2 separate regions of the Homo sapiens genome follow, and region 1 is linked to region 2. The links come from fine-mapping of genetic effects on gene expression. Tissue or cell type: whole blood. Region 2 holds a variant in brackets; the other region holds the start of a gene. All regions are shown on one strand. Distances are between the middles of the regions.

Region 1 (5,146 bases), 69 kb after region 2:
ATTTTTTTCCTGACAGTAAAGTCTTAAGTTCTCTACCAATGAGAAAACTTGTGGGGGTGGCTTGGGTGAATGAAAGCAGAAAATTTCCAAAAACTTTTGGCCTACTTAACTGCCCTGACAGCACATAGTTATTTTGTTTGGGAAAGGAGGGGGTGGACTGTTTCTTTCCAAAGGAACCATAATTAGTTGGCCACTTCAAATAGTATCAAAGAGATTTGGAAAACAGTTACTTTTCTAAATTTTTTAATGAGGCCAAGACATCTGATTTCCAGCGATTCTTAATATTAACAAGCTCCTGCAAAGCCCCTTAAAAATCACTATCATAATCTCTACCACTCAACAGGAACACACGGGGAAAAAACTACTCTGGCCTTTTACACACTTCGGGGCTTCTTTTACAGAGAATGACTTCACTGATCTGACTGGAAGTCCCGTTTCCCCAGGTCTCACCCTGGATTTGCACTCCTTTGAGTGCTGCACCGGTTTCTATATTTACGCACAAACCAGCTGCGGCCACCTTCCTTCGCAATTCCCAAACCTGCCTTTCACTGTACAGGATCCCTGGAGGTCCAATTCTGTTTTCTGGAGTCAAAGAAATACAAAATAATTTCACTACCTCCCAGAAAACAGACTTTGGTAAGTTTCAATATAAAATAGACAGCTCTTGAACCCAGGAGGCAAAGGTTGCAATGAGCCAAGATCTCGACACTGCACTCCAGCCTGGGCGACAGAGCAAGACTCCGCCTCAAAAATAAACAAATAAATAAAATAAAATAGACAGCTGTGTATTTTTGGTCCTAGCACCAATAAATTTCAGGGCTGGGAAAAATCATAAATTACCAAAGCATTCCTCTTCATATAACCAAAATATATTTTTCCTGTTGCTCAGGAAATTAAGACAAAATAGCCAACTAACACTTACGCAGCCTTACACGGAGAAACTCAAAGCTGGCAGGAAAGGACTAGAGATTTTTTTTTTTTTTTTTTTGAGACAGAGTCTCGCTCTGTCGCCCAGGCTGGAGTGCAGTGGCGCAGCCTCGGCTCACTGCAAGCTCCACCTCCCGGGTTCACGCCATTCTCCTGCCTCAGCCTCCCGTGTAGCTGGGATTACAGGCGCCCGCCACCACGCCCGGCTTATTTTTTATATTTTTAGTAGAGACGGGGTTTCACCGTGTTAGTCAGGATGGTCTCGATCTCCTGACCTCGTGATCCGTCCGCCTCGGCCTCCCAAAGTGCTGGGATTACAGGTGTGAGCCACCGCACCAGGCCAGGTCTAGAGATCTTTGATCTACAATCAACAAATAGTATGGGACTCCTTTCAGCGAATCCAATGCCCCACATGAATGTTTGGATGCTGGTTCTCCTTTAATAACTTCCCCCTATTAAATCTCTTACCAGTCATTTGGGGTTTGGGTTTCACCCTAGGGATACAAGGTGTTTGTAAGTCACTCTGAAACCTCTGAAGGGCAAAGTGTTGTGGACGCTATAATCTCCCTGCATACTGAGGGGGGCATAGCTCCCAACCAGTCATTAAATCCCGTCAAATGAGATACTCGAAAATGAGCTGCCCTTGGGTGGGTCCTTTCATAAAAAGGAATTTTTAAAAATCTGCTAACATGGTTACTCCACAAAGTTTACATGTATCATATTGTATAAATCTATAAATATGTACAATTATTTTTTGTTTAATTTCTAAAAATTTGCCAACAATGGCTGAAAAAGGCACCTGGCTGCCTGAGCCCCTACCCTTGTCGGTTACAAGTATTTCATAAGCAGGGTTTGAGGAATCCCATCAGAGAAGAGTGTTGTCACCTTTTTGCCGGAATGTCACACCAACTTCCTCAGTGTTCCCCTCACACCAACTTCCTCAGTGTTCCCCCTACCCCAATCTAGCCAACGTTTCAATGGCTCCCCACAGCACACAGTGCCTCTCAGGTGGGCACTCAAGGGTCCTTTCCTAATCCTCCCTAACCTAATTCTCCAAACTTTTTTTCCCCCAAAACAGCCCAGCAGACGGTCCAGTCAGTCCCCAAATCGTTTTTCCTCATGGTCTCCTTCCCCAGGGGTCCTCCCCTCCTTCTCTCCCCCCTGCAACCTCCACTGCTACCGGGAGATTAGTTCCCACCCGTCAGGACCCCGCTCAGATTTCACTTCCTCCAACAGGTCCGCTCAGATCCCAATCCACGGCTCTCAACAGCAGCCGGGATTCCTTTCCCCCGCAACGCCTTCTCTGAACACCCCGGCCTCCGAGCGCCGGCTTTGCGTTCCCTAGTTACTTCCAGTCACTAGTTACTTCCGCTCCGCTCCCACCCGCGGGACTCGCGACCTGCCCCCTGCCCCCGGCTGGCCCAGCTCGGAATAGGCAGAGCAGCGCCTCAGAAATCGCAGCCCAAGGCGAAGAAATCCAGAAGCCTCCCGCGGACGTCCCCCGGGACGGGGTGTGGCGAGCCCCGCTCCGAGCCCGCCGACTCCTCGTGAGACGAGAACCGCAGCGACGCGGAGACCCTGTGAGTCCACCGCCGAGACGCGCGGCGCGGCGACCAGGAGCCCCAGAGTAGCCGCGGGGCGCCGGGAGGGATCCAGCTGGCGGCAGCAGCTTCCCTGCCTCCCTGCCCCTCCCCAGGGGCTGCGCGAACCCCTGCCTGAGCCAGGCCAGCCCGGGTGCCCCCCAGTTCTCAGGGCGCTCCCCAGGGAGCCCGGGGACGCGCCCTGTCCGTGCCTGATCCCCGCCCTGGTCCCAGCTGGGTCGGGCCAGGTCCGCTGCACCTCACCTCTCCTCTCCACGAACCGACTGGATAACGGTCGGGTCTGAACCTGAGGAGCCCGGACCAGCCCGCAGTAGACTTGCCGCACCTGTCTCAGAGCAAGTGAGGAGCAGCCGGGCGCCTGACGTCACGGCCGCTCCCAGCGCCGCGAACCGGGAGTCACCTGATCACCCTGGCAACGCGCGCGGCGCGGGGCGAGGCGAGGCTTGCGTCACAGCACGAGCCCCGCCCCCAACTGCTCGGCCTCCAAGCGCCGCCGGAAGCGCTCTCTTGCAGTCGGCGCAGTCGGGAGGCGGGGTCGGTCTCCGACTTCCCAACGTGGGCCTCCCAGCTGCGCTGGATACTTAGGACTCCCACAGGCGTCCCCCTCAGATTGGATTGGTTCTCCGAGACTCCACCCGATACCCCAACTCCGCTAGTTCAGGCGCCTGGGAGGCAAGACCAGCGTCCATGCGGAACCCTGCTCAGTGCGTGGCATGAGGGGTCGGCTGTGGGCTGCTGCCTCCTCGTGTCTTGTTGGTCCAGACCCAACTAGGGTTGGGGGCTTACTTCCCGAGCTGTACCTGAGCGGAATGGGGCTGAGGCTGATAACTGGATTGCTCTCTGGCTACTTTTCCCCATAAACCTTGCAACAAGTAGTCCCGCCAGTACTTTAGAGTGTAATGAGACTTCATTCACATCAGGAGGGGGAAGGGGGACAGAATCTTCTGTCCTGAAGGTTTCCTTCTTCTGTTCCAACAGGAAGAGAAGTTACCGAAAAGCTCCCAGAGCAAGGCCTAGAATGAGCTTGCAAGTCCTACTTGCAAAAAATTTTTTATTTTTCATTTTAGAAATTGATTTTCTCTCCATATTCCTCCCCTTGCTTGCTATTAGGTTGGTGCAAAAGTAATTGTGGTTTTTGCATTTTTTTTTTAAATGGCAAAAACAGCAATTACTTTTGCACCACTCTAATATAAGTATATGCCTACAACTTTTGTTACTCTCTAGGCTTCCCAGATAAGACTATCAGCTTCGAAATGAAAATTTAACATCCCCTGGAGGTCTCAGTGTGAGAGTCACTGCCTATTTCACACCTTCACTATTTGCTGACTTTCATTTCAGTTTTACTCTCCTCATCCCTGCACTGCCAAGAAGGTTTCATATGTATTGAAACCTTCCCTCTCAAGAGTTTAGGATCTTAGACCAAGAAGTTAGTTTATAGTCAACTTCTTGTGAGCATCTTTTAGTGTCAGGCAATGGGCCATGGGCAGATTGAGATGTGGTTCTCGAAGATCAAACGTGTATGGGTGGTATGTCTCACATAAGTACAACTTGTACTGTTTATTATGACTTAATCATTGTATTTAAGTGGCACTTTTTAATTTTCACACTTAAAGAAACTCATATAAGTGGGAAAGAAGACAGCTGTGAAAGGTAGAGAAGAACCATGGCTCTAGACAGAGCTGTACTAATAGGAGAGAAGAGATTGAAAATGTGAGCCCAGGTCCCAAGGAGCACAGAGGCATGGTCAGAAGGTTGGTAGGAACAGGACAGAGGCAGCCAGGCCTGAGGTGTTTGGCAGATCTGAGGAGGGCAGGGATAGAGGGTGAGGGGAGGAGTGGGGCCAGAATGAGGCTTGAGGGATTCAATGGAGGGCGAAAGTGCTGGGAAGGGAGGAGGGATTGGAAAGAAAGGAGAAGTATGCAGTGGTTTGGGAAGGAGTTGCTGAAAGGGAGGGCAGGGTAAATAGAGACCCAGGAAAGGGTGCTAAGAGCATTAAGAGAAGGGAGGCTGAGAGGCTACAAAAAAGGACTGAGGGGGAGGAAGAAGCAGGTGGGAGACTCTGGGGCAGCAAACATCTCAGAACCAGTCAGTAGGTGGTGTCCTTCAGAGGCTGTTGGAGAAGAGCAGCATTGTCTGTTTGCCTCTGAAGAGTGAAGGTGATCCATGCACACCCCAAACTACCTCTGGACCATCTGAGGGTAAGAGCCACCCTTTGCAGAGCACTAATGCAGAGGGAAGAGCAGAAACAGGCACGTCCATAACTACACCCTGATAGTACTCAAGGCAGTCAGGCTTTTTGGCTGGACAGTTTTTCAGGCCTGTGGTACATGCCTCCGTGCCTCTAATCTGGGCAGGGCAAGGTGAGGATGGAGTGGAAGGCAGGGGTAATTCCCTTAGAAGGGAGGCAAGCTTCTCATGGCAGCTGGGTCATATGAAGGCTGTGCTAGGGAAGAAAAGATGCTAGGACACATTCTCAGTACGCTCCCTGACCACTCCCCTTTTACTGAGTTGGTAGGGTGAGGGCGTAACCATCGAAGGAAAAATAGAACATTCCTCACCCCCACCTCCACATCCATGCTGAGGAAAGTGTTATTATGTGGGTAAAAACTCAAGGAGTG
Region 2 (5,146 bases):
GTGTCCCAGATTCCTGGCAGGCAGCAGTCTCATTAGAAAAGCAGATTGCCTTCTGACTCACCCACTCAGTGCGATGCGAGACAGCCCCACAGCCCTCACAGCAGCCCATATTCCTGCTGGACAGGGCAGAGCGTGCACCATCCATTTTATAGCTGCAGTGGCTACAGACGCCTGGCCCAGGCCATGGAAAACCTTGAGAGGAGATAGTCTGTTACGGACAGGAGCTTTGTCCTGGAATTTCCTGGCCTTTGTCTGTCTGGGATAACTTCATGTACTGAGACGCCTGTTTTTTAGAGTCTTCTTCCTTCTGGGGGAAGAGTGCTACTGCCTGTCCTCCACAGAGCACTTTTGCTTCTACCAAAGCCATCTTCTCCCTGCTGCCTGCCCGTGATCACCCATGGTTCGGAGGTGAGGGGAGCACTGTGGGCAGGTGTGTGTACCTGGCTTGCAGTATACTCCTGAAAGTTGCCTGTCACAAAGGAAAAGCCATAACCATTGGACATCAAAGCTGTGTCTTCCAGCCCGGCCCATTCACTCTGGTCCTAACCTTTGTCTGTCTCTCATATTGCAGCAGAAAAAGTCCTACCTGGAGCGAAGCGTTAAGGAAGCTGAGGACAACATCCGGGAGATGCTGATGGCACGAAGGGCCCAGTAGGGAGCCTCTCTGGGAAGCTCTTCCTCCTGCCCCTCCCATTCCTGGTGGGGGCAGAGGAGTGTCTGCAGGGAAACAGCTTCTCCTCTGCCCCGATGGATGCTTTATTTGGATGGCCTGGCAACATCACATTTTCTGCATCACCCTGAGCCCCATTTGCTTCCCAGCCCTGGAGTTTTTACCCGGCTTTGCCTGCCACCTCTGCCCAGGACACTCTTCCCTCTCGGGATGTGTGATGAACTCCCAGGAGAGGGAAGATGGGAGCCAGGGCAAGATAGGAAGCTCTGCCTGAGCTTTCCACTAGGCACGCCAGCCAGACCAATAAAAAGCGTCTGTCCCACTCTGCTAAGCCTGGTTTTCTTGAGCAGAGGGATGGAACAGAGGGTGAGAGAGGCAGTGGCCGTCTCCACCTCAGCTCCTGCTCCCTCTGCATCAGAGCCCTTCCTTTCTTGGGGGATGGGCCTTGCCCTCTTCTCTTTTCCCTTCCTGTACCTTTGACTAACGCTCAGCTTCCGGGCCTGCATGCAGTAGACAGAAGAGGAAGAAAGAACAGATGTTCACAGCTGAATCTCAGTGAACAGAATAGCAGTCCCTGGATGGCAGTCTGCCTAAAGATTCCTTTCCCTGCCTTCTCCCATACATTCCAAAAGGAAGTTCAACAGTAAGCAGCACCTCCAAGACTGTCTCCTTTTGGCCAATATCATAAGATGGACGCCATAATCCTGAGGCCTCCTAGAGGCTGAGGGGGCAACGGTGTGATCCAGCTGGCTCATCCCAGCCCAGGTGGGCCAATTATTCAATTTTCAAGAATTTTGTTGCAAGCCAGTTGTCAAACACAGCCATTATAATTATGTAAATTTGCAAATTATGTTAAAAACAAGGACAATAAATATTCAAAATGCATCCCTAATTACTACATTTGACCACGATCTGTGCTCTATCTGTGCACTGACTGTGATCTGTGAGGTTGGCTCTGTTGTGTCTGGGTGGTAGAAATCCCACATGATGTCAGGTCCTGTGCTGCCCTTCCCAGCTCCAGTCAGTGACATCACATTGGTAACTTGAAATCAGCCATGGCATGGTGAGAACACGTACACCACAGAAATAAGACACAGGACATCAGAAATAAGACACAGGACATGCAACAAAACATGGCTTTTTTTTTTTTTTTAAAGAGAGCACCGGTAAACATTTATCAGCACGTCCACTGCTTCGGAGGGAAGGCAGAGTCGGCAGGGAGCTAGCTGTCAGCTGCGGCTTCTCGGGCTGGCTGGGCTGGGCGGGCCAGCTGATGGAGGAAAATCGGACTTGCTGCTATGGCAGCCTGGCGCCACCCTGTGGCCAAATATGAGATGAGTGGCACGGCTGACGAGCTGGGGTGAGGGGTGAGGGGACATCCAGAAGGGAAAACTTCAGCCAGGAGCGGTGGCTCACGCCTGTAATCCCAGCATTTTGGGAGGCCGAGGCGGGCAGATCAACTGAGGTTGGGAGTTCGCAACCAGACTGACCAACATGGAGAAACCCTGTCTCTACTAAAAATACAAAATTAGCCCGGCCTGGTGGTACATGCCTGTAATCCCAGCTACTCAGGAGGCTGAGGCAGGAGAATTGCTTGAACCCAGGAGGGGGAGGTTGTGGTGAGCCGAGATCACGCCATTGTCCTCCAGCCTGGGCAACAAGAGTGAAACTCCATCATCTCAAAAAAAAAAAAAAAAAAAAAAAAAAGGAAAACCTCTTGGCTGGCCCCATGTAATTGTAGGTTCCTGGGTTTCCAGGGAGCAGGCCTGGAAGCCACTCCAGGGGCAGCCCCTGGTTACCAAAAGGCCCTTTCCTAGGCTCTGGGTAAAGGCAGGTGCAAGATGTGGCAAATGCTCCTCCCTGAGCCTATCTCTGAGTGGGACTACGGGGAGAGTAGCTTGGCCGGGAGCCCATGACCCAGCTGGAGAACACCTGGCCCTCAGAACTGGCCGCCTTTGTAGCACCCTCACTGTTTGCATCACCACCAGAATAAAAAGGTAGATTGGCTGCTGGTCATACATTGGATGGTGGCCACTAGCTGAGATAGATACCCACATTTTATAAGCCTCAGTGAGCAGATGAGTAGTTAGTTAGACATGGTAACAGTCCAGGAGACAAGCACAGACTCCAGGTAGCTTAGCTTAGGCCTGGAATCATTTAGACAGACAGTTGAGCTTTGGACAAATTTA[T/C]TGAAACATACAGGCGGCTGTTAGCAGAGAAATCATTCCATGATTGATGTGTTACATTTGGCCACTACCTTGAATGTATAATTTAAAAATTATATTTTTCACAACTAAGCCTTTGGCCAAAAAAGTCATTTAGCACATCTTTAAAGATCAATAAGAAATGGATTTTGGACATTAAAAAGATCAAGTCACTGAATTAAACAGTAGCAACCCCCATTAATCTAGAATCCCATAGTGCTGAAGGTAGAGGTGTCTGTGCAAAGCTAGTCATTTGTTAACAGCAATCAGAAGAGATGGGGGCAGGCACACCTGTCAGAGGTGGCAGCAGAGCTGGCAGGACAGGACGGCTGGGCTGGTCTGGTCAGGTGAGCATGTCCCAGAGACAGCAGCAACAGAGAGCCGTCCAGCAGGCTGTGAGGCAGGTGGATGGTCCTAGCTCATCTCTTCTTTGGTCTTCTACCACATACACTGGAGGGAGAAGAGGGAAGAGGGTGAGAATGGACTGGTGCAAACCCCAGGCCCTGCAAAGTTAGCCTCCCAGGACCACAGGAAGGCTACACCAGGGGAAAACTATTGAGCAGACTGGTGAAACCGTGTTCCTGCCATTGCTGCTGCTGAATGGAAGGAGGGTGGCTCAGCTCAGCTGCTTTCTCCCTCCTGCCACTCCAGACTCAGGACGCCCTCACCCTCACAGGGACAAGTACTAGAGAACTTGCAGAATGGCCCCATGCCAAGGCAACCAGAGTTGGCCAACCCTACTTGGTTTGTAAACCAGGTAGCATGTCTTCCCCCCTGGAGGGGAACTGGGGGTCATTTCTTGGGATACAGCTGACCCATCACCCAAGAATAACAGAGGAAAGGGAATTAAAATCTCCTTTTAAAGGGGGGCTTTAAACCCTTAAAGAATAATCAAGAGCCCTGGTTTTTCATTCCTGGGCAATACACAATTTCAGAATGTGCCCCCAACCTCTATACCTTGACATAAACGATGAAGGAAGGCAGGGATGAAAACCTGGCTGAGTGGGATGGGGCGGCTGGAGCCTGTGTGGTGTCTTCCTGAGCCTAGCATGCTCACTTTTCCTCCAAATGGAGCTGGAAACCTGAGCCCTGTCATGGCCAAGTGCTCTATCGAGAGATCTGAGTGCTAAACAAATCCATAGGTCAAGAAGGACCCCAACTACCCACTACTTGTTAGCTGATTTGCGGCATTAGCTTCTCTTCCCATAAGGACATATTTTAAATGGCTGCTAGTCAATCTGTGGCCACTGAAAATCTCAAAACAACCACTGTCATCAAACTCATAAGCAGTAAGCATTTCACTTTTCCAAAGTTCATGAATGCATGAATGTTATCAATTAAGCCAGTCCTTTAGGGGTTTTCTTTCAGTTTTCTTGTGTTTTGTATCTGTTTTTAGACCTCTCTCGGCAGCGCCTCTCTCTGGAGCCTGGTGTCATTGCTATTACAGGGCACGCTGAGTGGGTTAGTAGGGAGATTTTCCAGGTCCTCCCGTTGTATCAGCTGCCCTCTACTGCACGGACATGTTCCTTTTCCTTCTCCTATGGCACAGGTTTAATCCTAGTCCACTTGCATTTGGCTCCACTCAGCAGCACAGGTCTGGGTCTAGATGCCCTTCACCAGGAAAGCCTGCTCAGAGGGAGAGGATGAATGGCTCATTTATTCTGAGGCCTCCTAAGGTCAAGTACCTGATTTCGTCTTCACAGCAACCCTGAGGTAGATACTACCATCATTCCCACTTCACAGGCAAGGAATTCGAGGCTTAGAGAGCTCAAGTCTCTCGTTCAAGCACATGTGACGAGGCAGAGGCAAGGGCAGAATCCGAACCCAGGCCTTTATGGCTCTAAAGCCTCTGGCAAGCCAGGCTTGCTCATACCCAACTGGGATAGAAAAGGGATCAGAAAGAGAACAGAGGTGACTGGGGCTACAGCAAAGTCATCTCTCACATCCAGCCAGAGCCTACCCTACCCACTGAAGCCTGGCCACCCCAGGCCCTGGGGTCACTGCAGCAGGAAAGCCCCAGGCAGAGTGTCCCTTCCATCTGCCTGGATGGCCTGCCCACCCCGGGATCCTGCATGGGCAGCTCTGGACAGGGAAACCAGAATACAATGGCATGCAGATCCCCTTGAATAACCCCTTCCCTGTGCTCTCCCTGTCACAGGATTGGCTCGCCTGCCCCTGGGACAGAAAGCCCCTCCCCTGCCAGCTCTGGAAATAGCCTGCTTGATTCATGTGCAGGCCATCCCTGGGCTTCAGGCCAGAGACTCAGCTGGAG

Evidence for each region. PIP is the estimated chance that this variant, and not a neighbour inherited with it, causes the effect.
Region 1: CYSTM1 starts here. The variant in region 2 is fine-mapped to the expression of CYSTM1 in whole blood (TOPMed, PIP above 0.99).

What each region holds. Positions count from the first base shown.
Region 1 is chr5:140,172,911-140,178,056 of GRCh38, reverse strand. CYSTM1 (cysteine rich transmembrane module containing 1) reads right to left here and starts at 2,869. Exons shown (of 3, transcript NM_032412.4): 1 at 2,772-2,869. RefSeq lists a silencer at 2,482-2,771 and an enhancer at 3,062-3,291.
Region 2 is chr5:140,241,483-140,246,628 of GRCh38, reverse strand. It overlaps CYSTM1 (cysteine rich transmembrane module containing 1), which reads right to left. Exons shown (of 3, transcript NM_032412.4): 3 at 2,840-3,324. The coding sequence ends at 3,218. It overlaps PFDN1 (prefoldin subunit 1), which reads left to right. Exons shown (of 4, transcript NM_002622.5): 4 at 572-1,594. The coding sequence ends at 655. Among named protein-coding and RNA genes, the nearest start is that of PFDN1, 59 kb to the left of the region's middle. RefSeq lists enhancers at 4,051-4,887, 4,888-5,146. The variant T/C (reference allele first, on the strand shown) is at 2,860.